Regions from separate parts of the Homo sapiens genome. Here region 1 is linked to region 2. The links come from fine-mapping of genetic effects on gene expression. A gene starts in region 2. The other region holds a variant in brackets. All regions are shown on one strand. Distances are between the middles of the regions.

What was found. PIP is the estimated chance that this variant, and not a neighbour inherited with it, causes the effect.
Region 1: its variant is fine-mapped to the expression of FAM43A in fibroblasts (GENCORD, PIP 0.95).

Annotation. Positions count from the first base shown.
Region 1 is chr3:195,096,413-195,108,415 of GRCh38, reverse strand. All of the region lies in intron 3 of XXYLT1 (xyloside xylosyltransferase 1), which reads left to right. LOC124909476 (a long non-coding RNA gene) reads left to right here and starts at 1,873. Exons shown (of 2, transcript XR_007096226.1): 1 at 1,873-4,786; 2 at 4,902-5,564. RefSeq lists a silencer at 1,816-1,985 and an enhancer at 4,579-5,778. The variant T/C (reference allele first, on the strand shown) is at 5,677.
Region 2 is chr3:194,679,493-194,691,495 of GRCh38, reverse strand. It overlaps FAM43A (family with sequence similarity 43 member A), which reads right to left and starts at 5,613. Exons shown (of 1, transcript NM_153690.5): 1 at 2,459-5,613. The coding sequence starts at 4,669. The coding sequence ends at 3,398. It overlaps LOC124909474, which reads left to right and starts at 4,587. Exons shown (of 3, transcript XM_047449428.1): 1 at 4,587-5,636; 2 at 6,078-6,158. The coding sequence starts at 5,243. RefSeq lists enhancers at 1,797-1,916, 3,763-4,266, 4,267-4,772, 5,524-5,883, 8,569-8,618 and silencers at 3,464-3,763, 4,594-4,783.

The DNA.
Region 1 (12,003 bases), 420 kb before region 2:
TTTCTAAAAAACTAGGAAGATGCTACTAAGTCTCAAATAAAACAAGAGTTAGCAGTTTGATAAGAGTCAAAGGCTCTTGAGAAAGTTCCCAGTTACGCCGCTGGTTCATAGGATTTCTGCATGTTTTTATCAGTATGGTGGTTTGCGTTTCTAATTAATGTTTATGCCTAGCTGGTTGTAACATGCAGTTATGTTTAGTAAAGAAAAACAAGAATGGATGGAAGAATATATGAACATTGCAGGCCAGGCCCAGAACTGGGACTTGCAGCTCAGGTGACCCAGGGTTGCCTCTGCAGGTCACCTAGGTCTCTCTGTAAGATGAAAGGCCAGACCCCCCTATGGGGAGTGGTGGGAGATGCATACAGCTAGAGGGAGGTTTCCAGCCACTTCTCATCTGACACGGTTCAACTGCATGAGAGCCGAATGGCATCAGAGTTGTGTTGGCCAGATAAAATGGGTTGTGTTGTGTGTAGGGACCCTCCTCAGCACTGGCCAGCAGCTGACTGGAAGAAGGGCCCCACTGTGCGGAGGCCTGGGCGGGTGATGCCTCCACGTGGGAGTCTCCATTTTCCTCATTTAAGAAAGGAGGTGGTGTCTCTACCAAGTTGGCCTCATGAGGCCATGAGGATTCCGAACACTGAGGGGCTGGATCCCCGCCAGAAGCGCAGGGAGGACGGGGTCACAGTGCGGAGAATACTGACTGTTCTTGCTAGGTTTGCCCCCCTGGCACTTGTGGCTCTCCTCCCCTTCCTCCTCCCCCTCCTCCTCCTCCTCCTCCTCCCCCTCCTCCTCCCCCTCCTCCTCCCCTTCCTCCTCCCCCTCCTCCTCCCCCTCCTCCTCCCCCTCCTCCTCTCCCCCTCTTCCCCCTCCTCCTCCCCCTCCTCCTCCTTCCTCCTCCTTCTTCTTCTTCCTCCTCCTTTCTTCCTTTTTTTTTTTTTTTTGAGACGGAGTTTTGCTCTTGTTGCCCAGGCTGAAGTGCAGTGGCATGATCTTGGCTTACTGCAAGCTCCACCTCCTGGGTTCAAGCGATTCTCCTCCCTCAGCCTCCTGAGTAGCTGGGATTACAGGTGCCCGCCACCATGCCCGGCTAATTTTTGTATTTTTAGTAGAGGCGAGGTTTCGCCATCTTGGTCAGGCTGGTCTCGAACTCCCGACCTCAGGTGATCCGCCCGCCTCGGCCTCCAAAAGTGCTGGGATTCCAGGCGTGAGCCACCGCACCCGGCCACCTCTCTTCTTTTTGAAGGGCGTCTGGACTCAGCTTTTCGTCTTGCTGAAAATGTGAAGCTGTAAATGAAAGTCGTTCTGGGCAAAACAAAACGAGAGCTCTCCATTCCACCAGGCAAAGGGCAGGTGCCTGTGTGTGTTTGGGATTTATTTTTATTTTCTAATCCCATTGCCAACAGAAAAAGATTCTGTGGAGCCTCTGATTGTATTACCATCCGGGAGCCGTTTATCTGTCGTCTGTGGGATGCTTGGCCCGATGTCCAGGGCTCCAAGTGTCTACTCTCCTCCCCCCGTCACCCCCACCTCTAGGGGGTGTTTTGGAGAATTTGGCCTTGGCCTAGGAGGGTAAGTGCCCAGGGTTCCATTCTGTCTCAGGGTCTTAGGACGGAAGCCAGACAGCTTGATGGTCCTGAGGCAGACAGAGGTGGCAGCTGAAGACAGTGGTGAAAGAAGTGTGGAAGAGGACTTGGCTCCTGATGACCTGATGGGTGGCCAGCCCCCCACCCCAGCTTCTTTGCTGGGGGCGCCCCAGGCCCCTCCCGCTCTGCGGCCCTCCCTGCCGCGGCGTGCCTGCAGTTCCGCGCCTCGCCGGCAGGGGTCTCGCCTGTGTCGCGGCCGGATCTGCACGCGGGTCTAAGAACTCAGGGCCCTCCCACCGCAGCCCCGAATCACCGAGCCCTGGAAGGTTCCAGCGAGCCCGGCGTAGACACCGCCGTGAGGCCCGGGAGAAGGGAAGGGGCAAGTCCAGTGAGAGAGGGTGTGTGCGGGGCCGTGCTGGGGCCAGAACCTTTCAGGGGGTTGGGGGTGAGGGTTAGGTGGGAGTGCGGAGCAAGAGCATCTCTCCATCAAAAACACAACAAGAGCATCTCTCCATCAAAAACACAACAAGAGCATCTCTCCGTCAAAAACACAGCAAGAGCATCTCTCCATCAAAAACGACACAGCACAGCAAGAGCGCCTCTCCGTCGAGAACACTAGTGAATGACAGAATGGCAGTGTATTGAGCTTCCACAAAGAGGTTTTATTGTTTTTTTCAGAGTGATCATATGAAGTAACTTTATTGATTGGTAACTTTATTAATCATAACAAATTGGGCACTTTTGGATAAAGAGACCACGTTTAATTTAAAGTATTCTTTTTCCATAAGAAGCAATACCTATGGTGTTCAAGTCAATAGTTAAATGCTACGCGCCGGTGAAATGCTGCCGACATTAATCAGAAGTAAATAATACAGGAAAGGGGAAGGCTTTAGTCTTACTAAGAAGTGATGATATGAGAGTAAGGGAAGGTGGGGAATAAGAAGTATGCCATGGAATGCTGGTGACAGCTGGAAACGTCACCAGGAAAGGAGAGAGGGAAGCGCAGGGAGGCCAGGAATAATACCATGGTTTCCTCACAGTTTCACCGACGGTGGGAAAATGACCTGGGGGGCTCTGCCATGGTGTAGGTCTGGCTCAGGGATCCCTTGGCCCCCGCTGATAGTTGAAACAGGTCTCCAAATCACTGCTCGGTGGCCCCGTGAGTGGACGCGGAGGCGCAGACTTGGCTGCAGCATTCAGGGATGGACTCTGTTGTTAAACGACAATTTCCTGTTATGTCATTTTCTCCACCATCTGACACACTTTCAACACTCACATACCTTTGAACAGAAGTTTAAATAAAAGTCTGTTGACTTTGCACTTGAGTCCTGCTGTGGACTTCACGTGGCCCTTTGCCTTTGGGCGTAAGTCAGACGAGATGATGATACGGTGTGTAGATATGTCTGTTTCTCTTAAACTTTGGTGAATATCCTGGGGACAGCTGTACTCTCCAGTCACAGGATCAAAGCTTACTGCATCTTCCTGAAGAGTCAGTTTTACTCAAAGATTTAGTAGAGGGAAAATTCGTCTGTTAAAACATATGCTTATATATTATAGAGTTTTAATTTTTCATAAACCATTTAGATAAGACACACTTTGACACACTTGGTTGTGTCCCAGGTCCCCTTGACATTCACCTCTTTCCTATCCATGGGGTCAGCATATTTTGTGGTTTTATCATTCTTGTGATAGTATTTGACCATTATGAACTGGAGGTGTGAAACACTAGTGAGCAGTTGGTTATATGGATGAAATACAAACCAGCCAGTGGTTTCCAAATGCGGCGCAGCCACACCACTATCCCCAGGGCACCTCAAAAGACAGGCTCTCAGGCCTTGTCCCAGGCATCCCAATACTGTTGGTCTCCAAAGCTGCGTTTTGACCATGTACCCAAAGTGATTCTGGCTTGTAGCTAGACTTGCGAATCAAAGAACCAAATGGTTTATTCTAACTGTAGACACTGGGAAAGGGACTGCAAACTGATATTCCACAGACCAGACAGAAGAGGGTTTTTGGTGTGGGGTTTTTTTTGTTTGTTTTTGTTTTTGCCTGTAGCATTTTGTTGTTGTTGTTACTTTGTATTAGTTGCCAACATTTAAAATCAAGGTATTCCGTAGCTTTCCTTTAAAACTCAGAAGTCAGGATGATACTAGGCCTGCCTTTTCTCCAGAACCCCTGGCCTCAGCTGAACAGCAGCAGCCTCTCTCAGGTGGTCGTGCCACGCTGTCTGGATCTCCCGGGTCCCCGCCTCGTCCCCACTGCCTTGCTCTCTGGGAGCTTGAGGTTGTGATCCCCTGCTCAGTGAACACATGGTCGTGTGAGCAGCTGAATCTCACATACCCTTTCCCAGCAGGCAGCATGAGTCCACTGCTGCCCCACCCCCTCCCCGCAAGGGAACTGCTCACCTGGGCACTGCTGCCTGGGAAGTGAAGTATTGTAGAAAGAAGAACTTAAGCTGAGGAATGATTGGGACTCAGAACCATCTCCTCTGCTTGCTACTTCTTGTCTTTGAACCACTTCTTCATACTTCTGTTTCTGTTCCTAGAGCCTCGTTTTCCTCTCATGGCATCTGCCCTCTCATAAAATACACACACACACACACACACACACACACACACACACACACACACACACGGAGCCCTCATCACCGTCATCACCGTCACAGTGGGTGTGTGCTCCCAAAGGGCTTCTACTCATCAGTAGATTTCATGGGCCCGACCTCCCATTTTCCTTTCCCCATTGCTCCCATTCTAAACTGTGGGTCCATCTGTATGTAATGTCTAAAAAGGCGCCCAAACACCAGTTGGAAATAGTTGTTATAGGAAAATGTATTCAGAATTCCAAACAACAGACTTAAAGTGATGAACTTCTAGTGCGTCAAACCTTTCTCCCCTCGTTGGAGAGGCCACAGGGTTAGGCAGGAGCATAGGGACTCTCAGCCTGTGCTGGCCTTTCTCAGTAATCAGAAGCATATGACCCCAGCTAGTATTTTCAGCTAGTTATGCCAGGGACTGTCTTTTATTCCATGAGGTCAAAGGACACACTTGGAATTGGTCACCTGACAAGATTGCATTGTTTCTCTAATTTTTTTTTCCCTAGTTTCTCAGGGCCTGAATTTCATTCCTCTTGCCCAGTGACTTCCCCTTGATGGATTCTAAAGGTCTCACAGAACAGCACCTCTTCTGTCATTTATCTGAGTCTAGGTAAAGGCACAGCGACAGTGAATGTAAGGGCCTTTAAAAGGCTTCAAAAGACAAAGAACATGTTCCTATTTAAAATTAATTTCTCTCTTGTTTTACCTACACTGATTCTTTCTAGGTTCTGAGTGTGTGTGATTTAGGCCCATGCAGCCTCTAACAAATGCAGAAGAGATGGACGCAGGCCGCTGGTGTGGGGTGATGGACGCAGGCCGCTGGCGTGGGGTGATGGACGCAGGCCGCTGGCGTGGGGTGATGGACGCAGGCCGCTGGCGTGGGGTGATGGACGCAGGTCGCTGGCGTGGGGTGATGGACGCAGGTCGCTGGTGTGGGGGTGCATTCCTGCACTCCTGTTTTTCTGTCACAGAACCACCAGTGGCCCAGCATTAACTAAACTAGGCCCAGCCTCATGGCCTGGAATTCCAGTCTGTTATCTGGAGCAAATCAGCATTTCCGTCCAGCGTTCCTAGGCTCCCTTTTATCTGCCCCCCACAGCACTGACTGTTACTAGCGTGAGCCGCCACTTCTCCCCGTTCAGTGCAGGCTGGCAGTACGGGGTTGATTCCTTAGACATATAAAAATCTGGCAAAATCAGAAAACAGTCATTCTCACTTCACACCTGATAGAATAGCCATTGTCAAAAACACAAGAGATAGCCACTGTTGGCGAGGGTGTGGAGAAGAGGGAGCCCCAGCACGCTGCACCGTTGGTAGGAATGTAGGTTGGTACAGCCATGATGGAAAACAATATGGAAATTCCTAAAGAAATAAAACTAGAACTACTATATGACTCAGCAGTCCTTCTTCTGGGCATTGACCCAAAGGAAATGAAATCACTACCTCGTAAAGATAACTGCTCTCCCGTGCTCACGGCAACGTTATTCACAGTAGCCAAGA[T/C]ACGGAAAGAACCTAAATGTCTGTTGATAGATGAATAGAGAAAGAAATTGTAACATACAAGACACACACACACACACACAAAACGGAATATTACTCGGCCTTTAAAAAGAAGGAGTCATACCATTTGCCACAGCGTGGATGAAACTTGGAGGACATTATTGCTAAGTGAAATAAGCCAGACACAGAGAAAAAATATGTCGCATGATCTCACTTATATGTAGAATCTTTTTAAAAAGAGGAAAAGCTGAATACACAGCGGTAGAGAAGAAAATGATGGTTACCGTGGCCACGGCGAGGGTGAGGGAGGAAATGGGGAGATACCAGTCAGGGGATACAGCGTAGCAGACGTGTGGGATGAACGGGTCTAGAGGGTTCATGTGTGACATGAGGGCTATCATCCATAATATCGTATTCATGAATTTTGCGAAAAGAGTTTGTTTTAGGTGCTCTTGCCACACACACAAAGATGAGTAACAATGTGAATTGATGGATATGTTAATTTGCTTGACTATTGTAACCATTTCACTACCTGTGTATTTCAAAATATCATGTTGTATATCTTACATAGAATTCAGAAGACATTCATTCTATTCTGTTGGAAAACATAGACTCAGATATACCAGACAATTCTCTTTTTCCCCCTCCCCTCCCCTCCCTTTCCCTTCCCTTCCTCCTTCCATTCCTCCTCTCCTCCCTTCCTCTTTCTCTCTTCCTTTTTTTCTGTTTCTTTACTTTCTTTCTGTCCTCCCTCCCCGCATCCCTCCCTCCCCCGTCCCCTCCCCTCCCCTCCCTTTCCCTTCCCTTCCTCCTTACATTTCTCCTTTCCTCCTTTCCTCCGTTCCTCTTTGTTTCTTCCTTTTTTTCTGTTTCCTTACTTTCTTTTTCTTTCTTCCCTCCCCTCTCCTCCCCTCCCCTCCCTTCCCCTCTCCCCTTTTTTTTTCAATAGAGATAGGGTCTCGCTACATTTCCCAGGCTGGACATAAAGCCCTGGGCTCCAGCAGTCCTTTTGCCTCAGCCTCCCAGGTAGCTAGGATAACAGGAACACACCACAGCACCCGGCTCAGATGTATTTTTTGCTATATCCCAATTTCATATATTTCATCTTTAAAAGGGGCCAGATGTTATCATTTTCATTCAGGAAATATGTTAATTAGAGCTACATGTATAACTGCCATATTTTATCCAAATCTCACTGAAATATGTAGTATACAAAAGGAATGTCCCTGGGACTTACTAATGTTTTAAAATATTTATGAAAGTGATAGCAGTTGTGTGCATTTCTAGAAAAAGTAATAAATGGGAAGGAAATGGTTTTGCAAAAGAGGATGTGTTTACCCATTTCATCATCATGATGCCCTGAGAGTAAAGATACTAACCAGCCAGAGAGATTCTGTTTTTTCCTAATGTGATTTAAGAGATTTTGATGAAGGTGGCAGTGGGGGTACAGTGTTTAATTAACTAGTACATGTTCTCCTTAATTGCTCCCAATCAATTAAGTCGAACATTCAAGCTGGGGGTACCTGCCCAAGCGCCGTAAGGACGGCATAGCACTGGCAAGAGGCCTGGCGGCTCTGAAGGTGACATATTATGTACTTGTCATAGCCTCACTGTCACGTGCTGGGAGGTGCTTTGTGGATTACAGCAGTGAGGCTGGGGAGCTGCTGGGATTGCGCCAGAAGCCCTTCACAGAGACTGGCAGAGGCCTTGGCTGTGGGCCGCTCTGTGGAACCTATAGCTGTCTTGGAAAAGGCTAGTTATATCCTTGCAGTTGGACAGTGAAAGTATACCTGTCTAGACTAGTTCGCTTCAGTAAATTTGGACTGAGTCCCTGCTTTGTGCCAGGCACAGGGTTAGGCAGCAGGGATATCCGATATAAAAAGACACAGTCTCTGTCCCCAAAGAACTCACAGTTTAATAGGACAGAAAGGGATGTAGGATCAGTATAAACCCCACAACCATAGACATAGTCCAAGGCTTGGGGGCGAGGAGGGAGCTGAACAAAGGACATGGCCTGTGAGCTGGGTTTTCGTGACAAGAAGTTTTCTGGTGGACGAGGAGGGAGAAGGGCACCACAGCCTCAGTGAGGGTAGCGTGTGTAGGCCCAGGAACTTGGGTCTGGGTGGAGTACAGGGGAGAGTGCCGGGGAGAGTGCCAGGGAGAGAGGAGGAGGAGGCTGGCAGGGGTAGAGGCCACATCACCGGGAGCCTTATGTGTTGGGCTAAGGTGACGTTAATTCTATAGGCACTGAGGAGCATGACATTAGCCTGATGCCAGGGCAGAAGACTCTGCAGATGCCTGCCTTCTGGGGGAGGCGCTGTGATGTGTGTGCTAAATGTGTCCCTCCTTGTCCTGGCCAAAGCACACTGTCCGGTGCTCTGGTGGGTAAAACTCCTGCTGTACCTGGCTTCCATGCCATATAGGCCACACTTTCCCAGATAGGACCCCATGCTAGGTGTGGAGGCAGGAGATTCGGAGACCAGTAGGAAACCAGCCCTGTCCATCTGGCCGTCAGACATCCACAGAGGATGAATAAAGGAGGGACAGACATGGCTGGGCCACTCCTTGCCTGTCGCATGAAGCAGGGGGAACGGTGGTGGCGGGGAGATTGGTTTCAGGTGCAGGATCTCAGACAGCTTTATGCAGGGACTGGAAGTTCCAGATTTGCAAATTTGGAAGTTCCAAATTTCCACTACTTTATTCTATAGATATTTATTGTACTTTATTTAGTCTGTCTTCTTTTTTAAGTAAGACAGGGAGAATTTTTCTCTTCTCCCTCCATTTTGTGCCCAGTGAGAAACAGATCCCAATTATTGACTGAAGCTACACTTTAGAAACAACTTTTTCTTAAGAACTTTTACACTGAACAAGATTCAAATATAGTTACTGCATTTTTTTTTTTTTTTTTTTTTGAGACAGAGTCTCGCTGTGTCGCCCAGGCTGGAGTGCAGTGGCGCGATCTCAGCTCACTGCAAGCTCCGCCTCCCAGGTTCACGCCATTCTGCAGCCTCAGCCTCCCCAGTAGCTGGGACTGCAGGTGCCCACCACCACGCCCGGCTAATTTTTTTGTATTTTTAGTAGAGACGGGGTTTCAACGTGTTAACCAGGATGGTCTTGATCTTCTGACCTCGTAATCCACCCGCCTCGGCCTCCCAAAGTGCTGGAATTATAGGCATGAGCCACCGCGCCCAGCCCAGTTACTGCATTTAATTCTTCGTCAGATGGTTCTGTCTTTGCTAACTTGCACAGGGAAAGGGGCTTGTGAACACCTTTATTATGGAGAATGGATTTTACTTTCAGCTGACTTGACTGCGTCCAGGCTGACAGCACAGGCCCCAGATGGTGGTGCTGGTTTGGGAGGCACTGTAATGTGTGTGCTAAATATGTCTCTCTGTGGTCATGATGCCTGGGTGGTGATGGACACAGATCATGGCTGTCCAGCTGCTACCCCACACGTGAGTCCACGCACCTGCGCCAGGGTCAACCTCGTATGTGTGAAGCTGAGCACGTTTATTTATTTCTTAGAGTTTATTATTTTAATCTCTTGGGAAGGGAGAGGGAGAGGAGAAAATAGACCCTCTTCAACAGCAAGCGGTTGTTTGAGAACGCGGTGTCTGTCTGCCATGTCCTCGGTTCCCCTGGTACATTCCACGTTAATTACACCGTACTCTGCTACCACAGTTTTTCCTTTGGTATCCACAGCTTTGGAAAGTAAATACATTGTGATTGTGGAATGGTCTGTGCTTGAAGCAATGAGATGGAAAGGGAGAAGCAGCAGCCCTGCCAAGCCAAGGGGCACATGTCCCAAGTCAACAGGGCCGCTCAGGGCTCGGGCAGAACATGGGACGGAAAGCCCTGAGGCAGCTTGGAGACCCCAGGCTGCAGGCCAGGAGGCCCAGGGAGGGTCCCACCCGTAGGTAGTGTTGGAATGAGGCAGAGAGTGAGTTTTCCAGTCCCTCTGATTGCCATCAAGAGGCACCAGGGCCTTAACTGTCAGAACCCATAGGAAAAAAATCACTTTCTTCTGATGACGGGCTCTGCAGCAGGGGCCAGCGCAGCGAGGAGGGCTCCCGAGACCTTGACAGCATCAAGGCCCGTGGCTTCACCTCCTCTGCCACTGTGAAGAGAGATTATGGTCAAATATATACATAACACAGAATTCGCCATTTTAACCTTTTGTTGTTGTTGTTGAGACAGTCTCTCTCTCTGTCTCCCAGGCTGGAGTGCAGTGGCACGATCTCCGCTCACTGCAAGCTCCGCCTCCCGGGTTCACGCCATTCTCCTGCCTCAGCCTCCCAAGTAGCTGGGACTACAGGCGCGCACCACCACGCCCGGCTAATTTTTTGTATTTTTAGTAGAGACAGGGTTTCAACATGTTAGCCAGGATGGTCTCGATCTTCTGACCTCGTGATCCACCCGCCTCAGCCTCCCAAAGTGCTGGGATTACAGGCGTGAGCCACTGCACCTGGCTCCATTTTAACCGTTTTGAAGTGTACAGTCACTGGCATTAATTCTATTCACAATGTTGTACAACCATCACCACCGTTTCTCGTATATGTGCATCACCCCAAACAGAAACCCTGTACCCATTCAATAATAACTTCCCATTTCCTGCCTCTCCCCAGCTCTAACCTGCCTGTGAGCGTGCCTGTTCTTGGTATTTCCTGTGTGTGGAATCATGCACATTTGTCTCCTCCGCCACTCTCTGCTGCCCCTAGGCCCAGAAGCACACTGTTCCCCTCCCGACCCGCCCCACTGCTGGGACTGTGGGACTCTGTGGGTCCTTCCTTATTCACCACCACAGTACCTTCCATGAGCCTTTCTCGGTTCCCCTCCACCAGTCTCATCTTTTCTTTGTCCAGACATTTGGTTTGAAGCGTCTTTCCTGCCCAGCCTGACTTCTTTGTGTGTGCGTGGTGGGGGGGTGGGGGCATTTGTGTGAGGGTCTTTTCTCCACTCACACTCCCCCGGAGAATCAGAAGCAGTTGTGTGGTCCCAGCGGAGGTGCTCAGGGCTGGGTTTTATCTTGGCGACTGTTCACAGGGTGCTCGCCATGCACTGAGAGGCAGCCGAGGACAGTCTTATCAGTGGGGGCTCCAGGCCAGGCTGCCTGGGTTTAAATCCAGACCTCACCACTTACTAGCTGGGGGGCTTTGACTCAATTCCTTAACCCTTGTAAGCCTCAGTTTCCTTGTCTATAAAGTGGGGATCATGATAATAACAACCTCATAAGTTTATGAAAGCTGAATGAGGTCACAGATATAAACACAACAGTGCTTGCATGTGGTGGCACGTGGTGCTAGCTACGTGTTGATACGCATTTGCTGCTGTTGTAACCCACACGTGGTGCTAGATACGTGTTGATACGCATTTGCCATTGCTGTAACCCGCGTCACAAAGTTTAGTGAGGATGAAATCATTGATATAAATTGTTTAAAAGGTGACTGGCATTTAGTAAATGTCAGCTACAGTATATCTCTCTGTCTGTCTGTCTGTGTATGTATTCTTATGTCAAAACCAACTCAGCACTGAGCCTGCTTCCAAGAACTGTCTCCAACTTAAAGTTGCCAGCAGTCTGGTTGAGGGGACTGGGCCACACCAGCAGCAGATTAAAAATGAACCGGCCTATATGTCTTGTTCCTTTCTTCAAGACAACAGGGACATGGGAAGTCCCAGCAGAGGGACGCCAGGGGAGCCCGTCTGAGGGGTCTGCTGGGCGGGAATCAGAACAGCCTGCCTTTGCCCAGCGCTCAGCGCAGCCTGACCATTTTCACCCCTGTTGTTTTTCTTATTAAATTGGGAAACAAATTATACAAATTTGAACTATTTCTAACCTCCAGCAAAAGGTAGTCACATTCTATCTCAATTTGGAAGACTGAGTGGGCATTACTGTTGACGTGAGTACCTACAGTTTCAGTCAAGATTCTCATTTTTTTAAACCCATGGAAGAAAATTATCCTCTATGGAAACCAAGCTTTACAAAGCTTGTCTCTATGTTCTGATTTTAATTGCCAGTTGAAAGGAAAGCTCAGCCTTGCTTGTTAAATAACTGTGTAAATATTACCAGGGCACTGAGAAGGCCTGAGGAGGAGAAGGAATGGTTTCCTTGCACATCTGTGCCTGAGAAATGAAGACTCAGACTCACTTCTGAAGAAACGAGTTCAACTTCAGATGGGAGGTTGAACTCCATTTTCCCGAAGGCCGAGGAAATGTATGCGTGTGTGTGTGTGTATCGTGTGTGTTTGTCAGCATGTGCGTCTGTTACGTACACGTGTGCGTATGTGCATGTGTATTATGTAAGTGCACATGGGCATGGTCGTGTATATATAC
Region 2 (12,003 bases):
GCATTTAAAGTACCATCAGGTTAAGTCATGGAGAAACATGAGCCTCACTTTGCAGGAAAGAAAAGCTAAATTTGATGAGTAAACCAGACTTCAGGTGTTTTCTGGAAGGTGTATTTTATCTAATGACTTAGCTTTGCTTTTGTCGCTCCATTCTTTTCCCTCTGAGCTCCAGGAGCAAAGTAGTTTTAGGGTCTTTCTTTTATTTTCATTCAAAACATCTCTTCTTACTCTAGTGATATCATCCCTGGAAGACTGAGAAGTCAGAAGAGGTGAATCACGTGTCACCTTCACATCTCTTCTAGAATTACATCAGTCAGAGCTCTGAGGTGCAGTGGGGATCGATGCCAAAAAGCAGAGGGGAGGAAGGAGAGATGGGGAGGGCACAGACGGAGGAGGAAGGGAGCTGGCTCTTTCCAGCCTGCTTATTTTCTTCTTCCTCCTCCTCAACCTTCAAGCCCCCCTTCCTATTTATAAATCACATGAGAGGAAATATCAGACTTTAAAGAGATGGCTGCTTTATATTTATTGATGGTGTTGGTTTCAACACTATTTGCCTGAACTTTTGGACCAACCACCACATGCCTGTCAGTCACAGATGAAAGCCAACATTGGCATTCTCACAGGACACTTAAACTAGATAAGAATGAAGACACACAGACCCTGCCCTGTCTCCCAAGTATTAGCCATATTATCTTCACTCTGTCTCATCTCTTCATCAGTTTCAAACAGCAGAGGAACTTGGCTATGCATGGGAATAATTTCAAATGTGAAATCTAGTCACGCAGGCTAGTGATGGCCCACACAGCCGTCTGCTTATCAGGTGAGCACACTGGTGTGGAAGGGCTGGGATGGGTGGCTGGGCTGAGACTGGACTTTCCTGACCTCTCTCTAGCTGGGGTTTTTAATGTCATTCAATGATGTGTATCTGAGGTATTCAGGGAGAGGGATCGGGACGCACAACCAAGCCAAAATATAATAGATTCAAAGGCCTGGACGTCCTAAGGCCCTTAAGACTGAATTTTTTTTAAATGTTTTCCACTCAGCTGGGTACAGTGGCTCACGCCTGTAATGCCAGCACTTTGGTAGGCTAAGGTGGGCAGATCACCTGAGGTCGGGAGTTTGAAACCAGCCTGACCAACATGGAGAAACCCCATCTCTACTAAAAATACAAAATTAGCCCGGCGTGGTGGCGCATGCCTGTAATCCCAGCTACTTGGGAGGCTGAGGCAGGAGAATCGCTTGAACCCGGGAGGTGGAGGTTGCGGTGAGCTGAGATTGCACCATTGCACTCCAGCCTGGGTGACAAGAGTGAAACTCCGTCTCAAAAAAAAAAAAAAAATATATATATATATACACACACACACACACACACACACACACACACATATTTTCCACTCGCCCCCTTTGCTTTTCTTTTTTAAAGATAGTTCTATGCCTGAACCATTCCTGTTAATTAGGAAGAAAATCTTTCACCCCTCTTTCCTCTATGGTTCCAGTGAATTCCAGACTCCTTAGGATTTCTGGGTCTAGCTGCTCAGAACATATTTATGATGAAAACAAAGCAAAGTGGCCTCAGGACACCAGGGAAGGCCAGGAGTGAGATCCATTTCTGCAACACAGGAAGAGAGGCCTCAAGGGGCAAAAGGAAAATATAATTTGCAGAAGGCACAGTTTTGGCAGCATCTTATTACAACTTCCAGCTGATCGGGTGTAGCCAAACTAGAGACATCTGTTTGGAGTTTACAACAGAAACAAACACACAGAAAGCATGAAAGCGCTGAAACATGCACACCCATACCGCGCTCTAACAGCTCCTCTCCCCCTCGACCTTCGCGCCATCCCCCAACTGGGTCACACTGGGTTGTAGAAGGGAAGGAAATGGGCTCTGCAGCCTGCCCAGCCACCCACCCACCTGCACCGTGACTCACTCACACCAGGATCGGAACTTGTCAACTTTTCTCTCCTTGGTTTTCCTCCCAGGAAAAACAGAGATGGCCCCACTCCTCAGAGAACTCCTCTTTGGGTTTCTAGTTCATCTTTAAAGCTCCCTGAGCTGTTTGTAAAGGAAAAGATAAGGTAGTCTCCTTACGCTTGATTATTAGCATGGCCCACAGAAGGAGGTAGTAAAATCTCAGCAGATCTGGAAGTCACTCCTCCATAAATAACCTCACAGGTCTGGGAGTGCGATATGGAACTCACCGTGGCCTCTCCAAAAGACCAGAAAAAGATCACACAACTTAATTACTGAAAAATACAGGATAATACAAGAAAAGGCTGGTCCCAGACACAGCACCCAGAGTTGTGGAGGTCCAGGAAGGCCCCAGATGGCGCATAAAGTGGACCTTCCTTCCCTAATTCTCTCCAAGCACAGGAAAGGCCAAAGACTGTCTTATGACACCATCCCAGGGTCAGACACAGCCTCTCCCACCCCAACGCAGCAGTTCCAGACGCTCACCTGTTCTGTTAAATTTTCCTCTTTATTCTCTCCCCACTGGCGTGCAAACAGAACCAGAACAGTGCTACTTTTAAAAAATAACAAAATGTTTTATACACATTTCTGTATATACAACTGAACAACATTTTACATGTTTCTTTTGCACAGCAAAAGATATAAACATTCAGCTCTGAGAACACAGTTATGTACAGAAAAAAGTCAAAAATACTTCACAACAGTGCAAAAATATTTTACACAGTATCATGGAGTGAGATCTTTTGAGCAAGAGGAAGGGTGTGTGTGTTTCTAAAGGAAAACTCCTTTTTAAGATATTGGATGTCTTTAACTGTAAACAAAACGCGACTCTCTTTCATCTCCCCCCACCCCCCAAACAGTTATTTGAAGAATTTGGCAACATTTCAGGGGTCTGAGTCTGAGGTAAACAGCCAGAATTCTTGCACCAAAAAGAACCAAGGGCTAAAGGGTTGCATTAAAGCCTCAAACACCTTGAGAGCAAATTTTTTTTTTTTTTTAATGAGATGTCAGTGACAGCGCAGGGCCGCTCCCAGGGGGTGGGAGGAGGAAGTGAACCCCTCCTCCTCAGGCCCCAGCTGCCCCACAAACAGGAAACTGGCCAGGCACCTACGGCCTGAGACTAGGAACTTCAGCCAACCTTCCCTCACCCGCATCCCAGAGGGGTGCCTCTCTCTCCCTCCTGGCGGGGTTTTCCCCTCTCAAATCTCCCCGCATCCCCACGCGCAACAGAGCCAAAAGTGCTGGGGCGGGAGCGGGGGCCGGGAGGTAGGGGAAAGCGGTCGGGGGAACGCTGGACCTGGGCTCCAAGTGTAGGTCTGGGCCCCAAATGCCCCATTTCCCCCTTCCTGGGGGCGGGCAAGGGACAGGGAGGTTGTCGGGACCACGGATGGGTAGCCACGGTGGAGCGCCGGCGACGCGCGGAGGAGCTCAGCCCGAGTGGGGCTCGTCTGCACTGGCGCCGTCGGCCTGGCGGGACGAGTCCCCGGCGGTGGCGGAGGTGGCGTCAGGGCCCCCGCCCTCGATGGAGCTCTCGCTGCCCGTGCTGTCGCCTGACAGCAGGCGCGTCACCCGCAAGTCGGCCTGCAGGGTGCGCACGTCGTTGCCGAAGCTGAGCTCGCCCAGGTCGCTAATAAGTTGCGACAGCTCAGCCTTCATGTCGGAGGCGCTGCCCAGCAGCAGAGGCGGCGGCCCGGCCCCCGGGCCCAGGGAGCCCCCGCCGCCTCCTAGCGCCTCCCCACGGCCATTCTCCAGAGTATCCAACAAGTCCCCGCACTCAAAGTGCATGGCGACCACTAGCGCACGCTGCGCCTCGGCCTCCTCCTCTGCTGGATCTCCCTCTGCCGCACGGTTCTCCTCCTCCTCCGGGCAGCCCTCGGGTTGCTCCTCTTCCTCTTCCTCCTGCAGCTCCTGCTCCAGCTGTTCGCCGAGCAGGTCCTCGGTGATGGAGCCAAGCTTGGGCGCGCTGCGGCTGCGCTCCACCGGCGGTTTATAGCAGCAGGGTCCGTGTAGGAGCAGCTTGCGCAGCGGCACTAGCGGGATGGTGTGTGCGCCCACCAGCTCCTGCTGCTGGTGACGCGCGTCGTCCCGCCGCTTGAGGCGTTTAAATTCCGCCAGCGCGTTGGCCGACGTCTGGTAGAGCAGCAGGGCCATGGCCTGCGCCTTTTCGGGCTTGGACACCAGCACGGCGTGGCAGCGCAGCATCACGGCCTTGTGCTTCAGCTCGTGCCGGTACACCCAGGCGAAGACCTTGGGCAGCCGCGCGTCGGCCACGCAGTAGGTGACGCGGTGCAGCAGGTAGAGGTGGCCCGGGCGGCGCAGCGCGCGCTCCTCGGCGTGCACCATGCGGATACCCTGCGCACTCACCGTCAGCTTCATCTTGGTGCCCTGACGGCCCGCCTCGCTCTTGCTCCAGATCTTGCCCACAGCAAGGTCGGTGCAGCCGTCGCCGCGCGCCTGGATGGTGGTGGCATTGCCCAGGTAGAGCACGGTGTAAGTTGGGTCCTCGCTAGTGATGTGCAGCTTCTTGCGCTTGGAGCGGAACATGCTGCCCACCCGGCTAAGCGCGCCTTCGGGGCACGCCCGCGCCAGCGAGCTGAGCGCCGAGTAGTGCAGGCTCACAGCGTAGCCCTTGGGCTTGGACGCCTGCCGCGGCGGCGCCTCGGCCAGCAGCTCGAACTTGTGCTTCTTCCACGGCAGCATCTCCGGAGGGCGCCCCGGCGCAGCTGGGCGGCGGCGGCGGCGGAGCGCCGGGTGCGAGGCCCGCTGAGCCACCGGCCCCTGCCAGGCTCGGCCCGGGCAAGATCGAAGAATAAAACTACTGGGAGCGGCCCTGTGGTAGGGAGTTGGGGGGAGGGGAGCAGAGAGAGTGCTTAGGAACCCCGCAGGAGGTGCGGGTAAATTCTCTAAAAAAGAAAATATTCAGCTTCGAGTGTGCAAAAAAGGTTGGTGCGGGGGAGACACGCGCGCACACAGAATTACCCCAGCCTGGGCAAGGGCGAGAGCAAAGAGTCTCAGGCAAGCAACAAAATGCAAGGGAGAAAGAACGAGCGTAGAGTGGAAAATGTCAGGAAAAAAGCTAGAAGCGCGCGTGCAAATAAAGAGAGCCCCAGCAACAGCACCCGGGATGGTGCAAGAATATGCAGGAACTCCTCGGCGAACGTGAGGTGGGTCCCCTAACACACACAACCCTCAGGACTGGGGCCAAAACCCGCGGAAACTCTACAGCGAGTGTGCCTAGGGGCCGGTGCTCCCCACCTCCGAGGGGTGCTGGAGATGGAAAGCCCCCCGTTTGGGCTGGTCTCAAGTCAGCAGCTCGCCCAAAGTGCGGTCGGATGCTGGGTCCGGCTGGCCGCGGCGGGCCCCGCGCAGCAGTCCCGCGGGGACTCACTGCATCTTCGCTCCGCCGGACGCCGGGGACTCGCGCTCGGCCCGCTCAGTGTCCGGGCTGGCCTGGCCGAGACGGCGCTGGGCTCCGAGAACAGGGGACGGGCATGGCCGGGTCCGGGAACCGCCGCTACCTCATTTCTTCCCTCCGAGGCGGTGTCCAGCTCCGCTCCCGGGCTCTCCACGGTCTGCTGCCCGCCTTTGCAGTGCGCCCTCTCCGGTGCTGCGAGCGGCGTCCGGCTCGCCTGCCTCACATCCTTGCCGTCCGGGAGGAAGATCTCGGGTAAATATAGGCCGGCGCGAACCATTCGCCGCGCGGGGACAGGGGAGGAGCAGAGAAGAGGATCTGTTTTGGGCTCCGACTCCGGGCGGATTCCTGGTTTCTTAAAGGGACCGCGTGACAGCCATTGGTCGAGGGAGCGGGGAGACCGGTCCAATCCTCCAATTACATCCCAAATTTACCAGCATCTCTTTTGTCTATGGAAATCACTGGGACCTGGGGTTACCCCGCAGCAAAAAGATTTGAATCCTGACACTCCACCCCCCAGGCTGAATTGCCACTCACTGAATACATGTATGTCTAGATCGAAACTTCTGAGGGAGGTGGCAGAAGATGAGATTACAGATTATAATTTCCTGTACAAAAAGTTTGGGAAAATAGTGGTTTCTTCCTTGTGTGACGGCTTTCTGAGAATGACTGGGTGCTGTTTAATATTATTTTCAGAATTGTATTCCATTAAAGAAAAGAGAGAGGCACAGAAAACACCAAGGCTTATCTCTCACTATCTTGAGCTCGTATTCACAGGTAAGCAGCAGACAGTGTAAAGTGAGGTGAGTGGTAACATGATTGGGGTGACTACTGTAGAATACCGTCAATGAATAAGGCTTTTCCCCGTCCGAACCCCGGCAAGACCCCCTCCTGCTGTCAGGCCTCAGGGTAGAGCAGTTTTCTGAGATACACACAATTTCTAATGCTCGTGTGTCGTTAGGACTTAGTTTACTTTGGCAAGCCGGTCATGCGGTTTCATTCTATCATTGACATATTTTGGATGAGAATTCCTAGTAAAAATTCAAATGACGTTTTTTATTTAAGTGACAAATAATGCCAGGCCACCCTCCAATGGGAGTGATAATTGCATCAGTATTGCTTTTATCATGTGCCAACTGGACAGTGTAGTTGTCTTCTGACCGGCTTGACCCTTAGCCAGTAACTCATTTCTGGGCCCTTGAAACAGCCTGCTTGCCTCTATGGTATGGTCAGTCAAAGCAAAAAGACGTATGGCTGGAGTGGGATCAATGTCCGAATGATCCTGCATCAAACTCCCAGCCTGGTCCTGGAGGAGGACAGTGATCCCTTCCCACCATCCCAGTCCCCTGGGGATCTTTGATGTCTCTGGCTTCCACGCCAGGTCTTCATGCCAGAGTCACTGCAACCATACCTGGAAATTCCCTTGGGATATTCCAACAAAATAAAACTGACCCCTGCCCACCCTCTACCTTTGCCAACTTTTAACCTTCCTTTGAAATCTAACTCAATTTTCTCAGAGTCGTTGATGCTGAGTTTCCATTTAAGTTACTTTGCTGAGTTTCCATTTAAGTTACTTTTCTGACTACCTTTTGGTGCCCGGCCCTGAGCTAGGAGCAGACGGGATTCCTGCCTCCTAGTCCAATGAAGGTTGTAAACTCTACCCAACTCTGGGTTTCCACTGGACTGTGGGTTCTCTGCAAGTACCCTGTATCCCCAATATGGTACAAATAGGCACTCAGTAACTAGAATTAATGAGCAAGATATGCATGTGGACAAGAAGACAGAGTGGGCTAAATGCTATGAGAAAGACTCAAAGCACTATGAGAAGCTGGAGGAAGAAAGCATTCATTGTGACTAGGAAAATCAGAAAAGGCTTCATGGAGGTGGTGACCTTTGAAAGATAAACAGAATTTATCCAAATAGGAAAAGACTGAAGGGCTTTATGGGTATAGAGGGTAGCAAAATTACAGAAGCATGAAAATGCATGCATAAGGCCAGGCGCGGTGGCTCACGCCTGTAATCCCAGCATTTTGGGAGGCTGAGGCGGGTGGATCACTTGAGGTCAGGAGTTCAAGACCAGCCTGGCCAACATGGCAAAACTCTATCTCTACTAAAAATACAAAAATTAGCTGGGCATGGTGGTGCACGCCTGTAATTCCAGCTACTTGGGAAGTTGAGGCAGGAGAATCCCTTGAACCCGGGAGGCGGAGGTTGCAGTAAGCCGAGATCGCGCCACTGCACTCCAGCCTGGATGACACAGTGAGACCGTCTCAAAAAAAAAGAAAGAAAGAAAGAAAGAAAATGCATACACATGTAGTAATTAAGATGGAGCTTGTAACAATCAAAGAATAAACCTTCCTGATTGTGTTTTTTGGCTCTCTTACACTCCAAGGGAAGGAATGGCCTCTTCATGGCTAACTGGCCCCACAGGGTCCTTCAACCAGAGCTATAATGCCTTACTCCTCAGCTGCACTGATGGGTTAATGGAGGGATACCAGACATGCTGTTGGAATGAGGTAGTTAGTACTATAATAAGCCATTTAAGGCAACATTAATTCCTTAAATTTCTAGGCTATCTTGTAGTGGCAATGAAGGAGATAGCACACGCTCTAAAGAACAAAAACTCTGGTAAAAACATATCAAATGAGGCTGTGTTCAGTGACCTTTAGTAGGTCCATAATCTTGAACTCCACAAAAGCAGACATCATGTTTAAGCAGTGATCATTTCCAAATCGCTCAAAGTTCCAAGGCTCAAGAGGGTTTGGGGAAGAGGAAGAGGGAGTAGTAGCAGGAGCTAAGGCTGGTCTCAGCCTCAGCGAGAGGCACCACTTTGCACTTCATGCAGTGGCATGGACCCCAGTGGCCCACAGAGGCAGGGAGGAGTCTACTGGTGGGCCGGGCTGTTCAGCAGCAGCCGGAGTGCCAGTCCCAGCGGCACAGGCCCACAGAGCTGCTCCTGTTGACGAGGCTATGTCACGCCTTGACCGCCTTCCTAATAAGCTTGTTTCCAACCTTGGGAGAACAGAAAGGTTCTAGGCCAGTGTGAACACCCTGGTGTGAGTCATGCCCTGGAGGAGAACCCGCGGTCCCCTTGTGGCCTGGACCTGTGCCAGCCTCTAGGGCCCGCCTCACCTTATGGAGAAGCTGACCACCCCACCTGAAGCACACATCACAATTAAGGCTGCGTTTCTTCAGCTGGGAGAGCTGGCAGCACCATGTGGGAGTCCACATCACAGATCTGAGACAGGGCAACTCCAGAACAGACTGTCAGCAAAGTGGAGCTGGGAAACAGGTTAGAAACTGCAGTGTACTTTTTTAATGACACTGCCCCCATCTACTGGTAGCAGGCAGAAATGCTGCTCGGTGGATGGTTTCTCGTCAAACCAGATAAGCTAGTGGTTGAAACTACACACAACCGGGTCGCAGTTGGAAGGAAATGCTGCCATCAGGAGTCCCAGCCCTAAACTTGACATCCAGGAGTAAGCCTTTCATCTCACAGAGGATTTGGACCAGCTTCCTCCCACCTTACGTCTTACATAATGCTCCTTCCTCTCGCCCCTCCTCCAACATCCTACTCAGTGGACATTGACTTCAGAGATGACACATGACGAATCTGGAATCTTCAATGTCATCTAGTAAATACTTGTGGAGAGTCTCCCATGAATGTCACATAGTTGCTGGGGATATAGCACTAAAGAGGACAGATAGAGAGGTCTTTGCCTGCATGGGATTTATAGCCTCTGGTGGAGGCAGGAGGGCAGACAGTAAACAAAAAACTAATGAAATAGCAGATAGTGAAAAGTCTCTGGAGAAAAGGAGGCAGTGCTAGGAGTGAGAGGTGGCTGGTTTAGACAGCATGGCCAGGGAAGGTGGCTCTGGGCAGAGACAGGAATGAGATGAACCTGCAAAGAGATGGGGGAGAGCATTGCAGCCTGTGCGGCCCAGTACGCAGTCACCAGCCACAGGCTGCTGCTGCCACTTGAACCATAGCTGGCCCAAATTTAGACGCACTACGAGTATGAACTACACACTGGATTTTCAGGACTTAGTAAAACAAAAAGAATGCAAAAAATCTTCATAATGTTATATTCATTATATATTGAATGATAGTATTTTGGCTATGTTGATTTAAATAAATTATTCAGATTAATTTTACCTATTTCTCTAGCCTGGTCAACATGGTGAAACCCCGTCTCTACTAAAAATACAAACATTAGCTAGGCATAGTGGTGCATGCCTATAATACCAGCTATTCGGGAGGCTGAGGCAGGAGAATCACTTGAACCTGGGAGGCAGAAGTTGCAGTGAGCCGAGATTGTGCCACTGCGCTCCTGCCTGGGCGACAGAGCGAGAGTCTGTCTCAAAAAACAACAACAACAACAAAAACTTACCTATTTCTTTTTGCTTCTTTAAGGTGGCTATCAGACACCTTGGTTTTAGCCCAGTGAGGCCCGTGTTGGGTTCTAACCTGCAGCGCTGTGAATTTGTGTTGATTTAGGCCACTACGTTCGTGGCAGTTTGTTCCAGCAGCAGTACACCTCCCATCCAGCCATCTTTTCCCTTATCCTGACTCTCTTCCCTCTCCCACTCTCCTCAACACATACGCTAAGTCCTCACTAGTTTCCCAAAGCCACTGGCTCCCCCAGAGCTCAGCAGAACTGACCGGGTGCTTCCCCCACAAAAACGAGGCAGTTAGAGCAACCTCCAGCCCCTGCCAACCTACAAAAAGCACGTCCACACCCAAGCCCACCTCCCTCCTCCAGGCTCCGAAGTCTCTCCTCCCTTCAACCTGCCCCTCTGAAAGCCACCTTCAATACTTACCAAACCACACCTCTGACCTTTTCTCTCTTCCCCTTTTAACCTTCAAAATGGCTTCCCATCAGCCACACGGTACACTCCCACTCCTCAGTATAACACATGAGAATGTTCAGGTCTGGCACCTGCCTATGTCTCCAACCTCATTCTTTTCTCCTGGACTCCTAATTTATGAACCAGCCACAGAGAATAGCCTATGCTTCTCCCCATGCTCATGAGAGTGGTTTTTCCCTTCCTGCCATGCCTTATGTGGCTCTATCTAACTGATATGACCTCCTCCTGCCATTTGTCCCGGCCAAGGCTTACTCATTCTTACAGAGCCATCTTGGATACCATTTTCTCCAGGTAAACCGCCTAGGCCTACTCATCGCCTCTCCACATGCCCTTGTGTGCATCCTTACCTCTGCACTTGCCCTGTTATAATATTGTCTTTTTTTGAGTCTTGCTGTGTTGCCCAGGCTGGAGTGCGTGATCTTGGCTCACTGCAACCTCTGCCTGCCAGGTTCAAGTGATTCTCCTGCCTCAGCCCCTTGAGTAGCTGGGATTACAGGCACCCACCACCATGCCCGGCTAATTTTTTTTTTTTTTTGAGATGGAGTCTCTGTTGCCCAGGCTGGAGTGCAACGGCACAATCTCGGCCGGCTGCAACCTCTGCCTCCTAGGTTCAAGTGATTCTCCTGCCTCAGCCTCCTGAGTAGCTGGGATTACAGGTGCGCAAAAGCGCGTCTGGCTAATTTTTGTATTTTTTAAGTAGAGACGAGGTTTCACCAAGGCCAGGCTGGTCTCGAACTCCTGACCTTGTGATCTGCCCACCTCGGCCTCCCAACATGCTGGGATTACAGGCGCGAGCCACCGTGCCTGGCCTATAGTATCGTCTTTAACTCTCTGTCTCCCCCAGTAGACTATGGGCTCCTTATGGCTGGTGACTGTATTTTATTCACTCTTTGTATCCCCAACTTCCAGCACAATGCCAGCCACCAAATTAATGTATGGCAAGTGTTTCTAGAACGAACATTAACCATGTGTTTATTTTCAAAGTCATGGGACTGTCATGAGCACAGACTGTCAGAACTGGAAGAGCGTTGTCTGGAAGGCCCTTCGAGATAATCTAGTCAACCTCCCCTGGCTTTACAAATGAGGACACTGAGGCCCTGACAGCGCAGGTGCATGGCCATACAGTAACTTAGTGGCCACACCAATATGAGGATCCATGTGGTCTGAATCTCAATCCAGGGCCCTTTCCTGTGGCTAAACGTAAAGCCAAAAGCTTCTAAACACATATATGTATGTAGAACCCACGTCCTTCGTTTGCTCCCCCTCTAGGAAGAGCTGCTTGGGGGCTCACAGGTTCATTTGATGATCTGAACAGGAGCAGAAAGCCAAACATACTTCTGTGACTTGACTGAGTGGCCACTCGCTGGGCCCCTTAATGAAAAGTGCACTTTGCTAATGGCTCTCACTGCCCCCAAAGACGTTAGAGTCAAGCATGACTGTCACAGGACTCCACCAGTGAGACGGGTCTCTGTTGTGGTCGACATCGCACTTGGGTCTCTGAGAGTCTGGTAGCCCATTTCCCATTGCAGGAGAAATAACTTGTAGTCAAACAGTGCCCAGACCAGGGCCCTCTTTAGGAAGGAAGTGGACTTCATGCTAAGCATGGAAGGAGGGGCAGATTGCTGTCAACAGAGGCAGGAGAGAGCGGTCCAGAGGAAGAAAATGGCCCATGCAGAAGGTAGTTAGTGTTGAACATCCAACAACTGGGCAAAAGGAGGGAATGCAAAAGCACTGAGCCCCTACCGCATGTCAG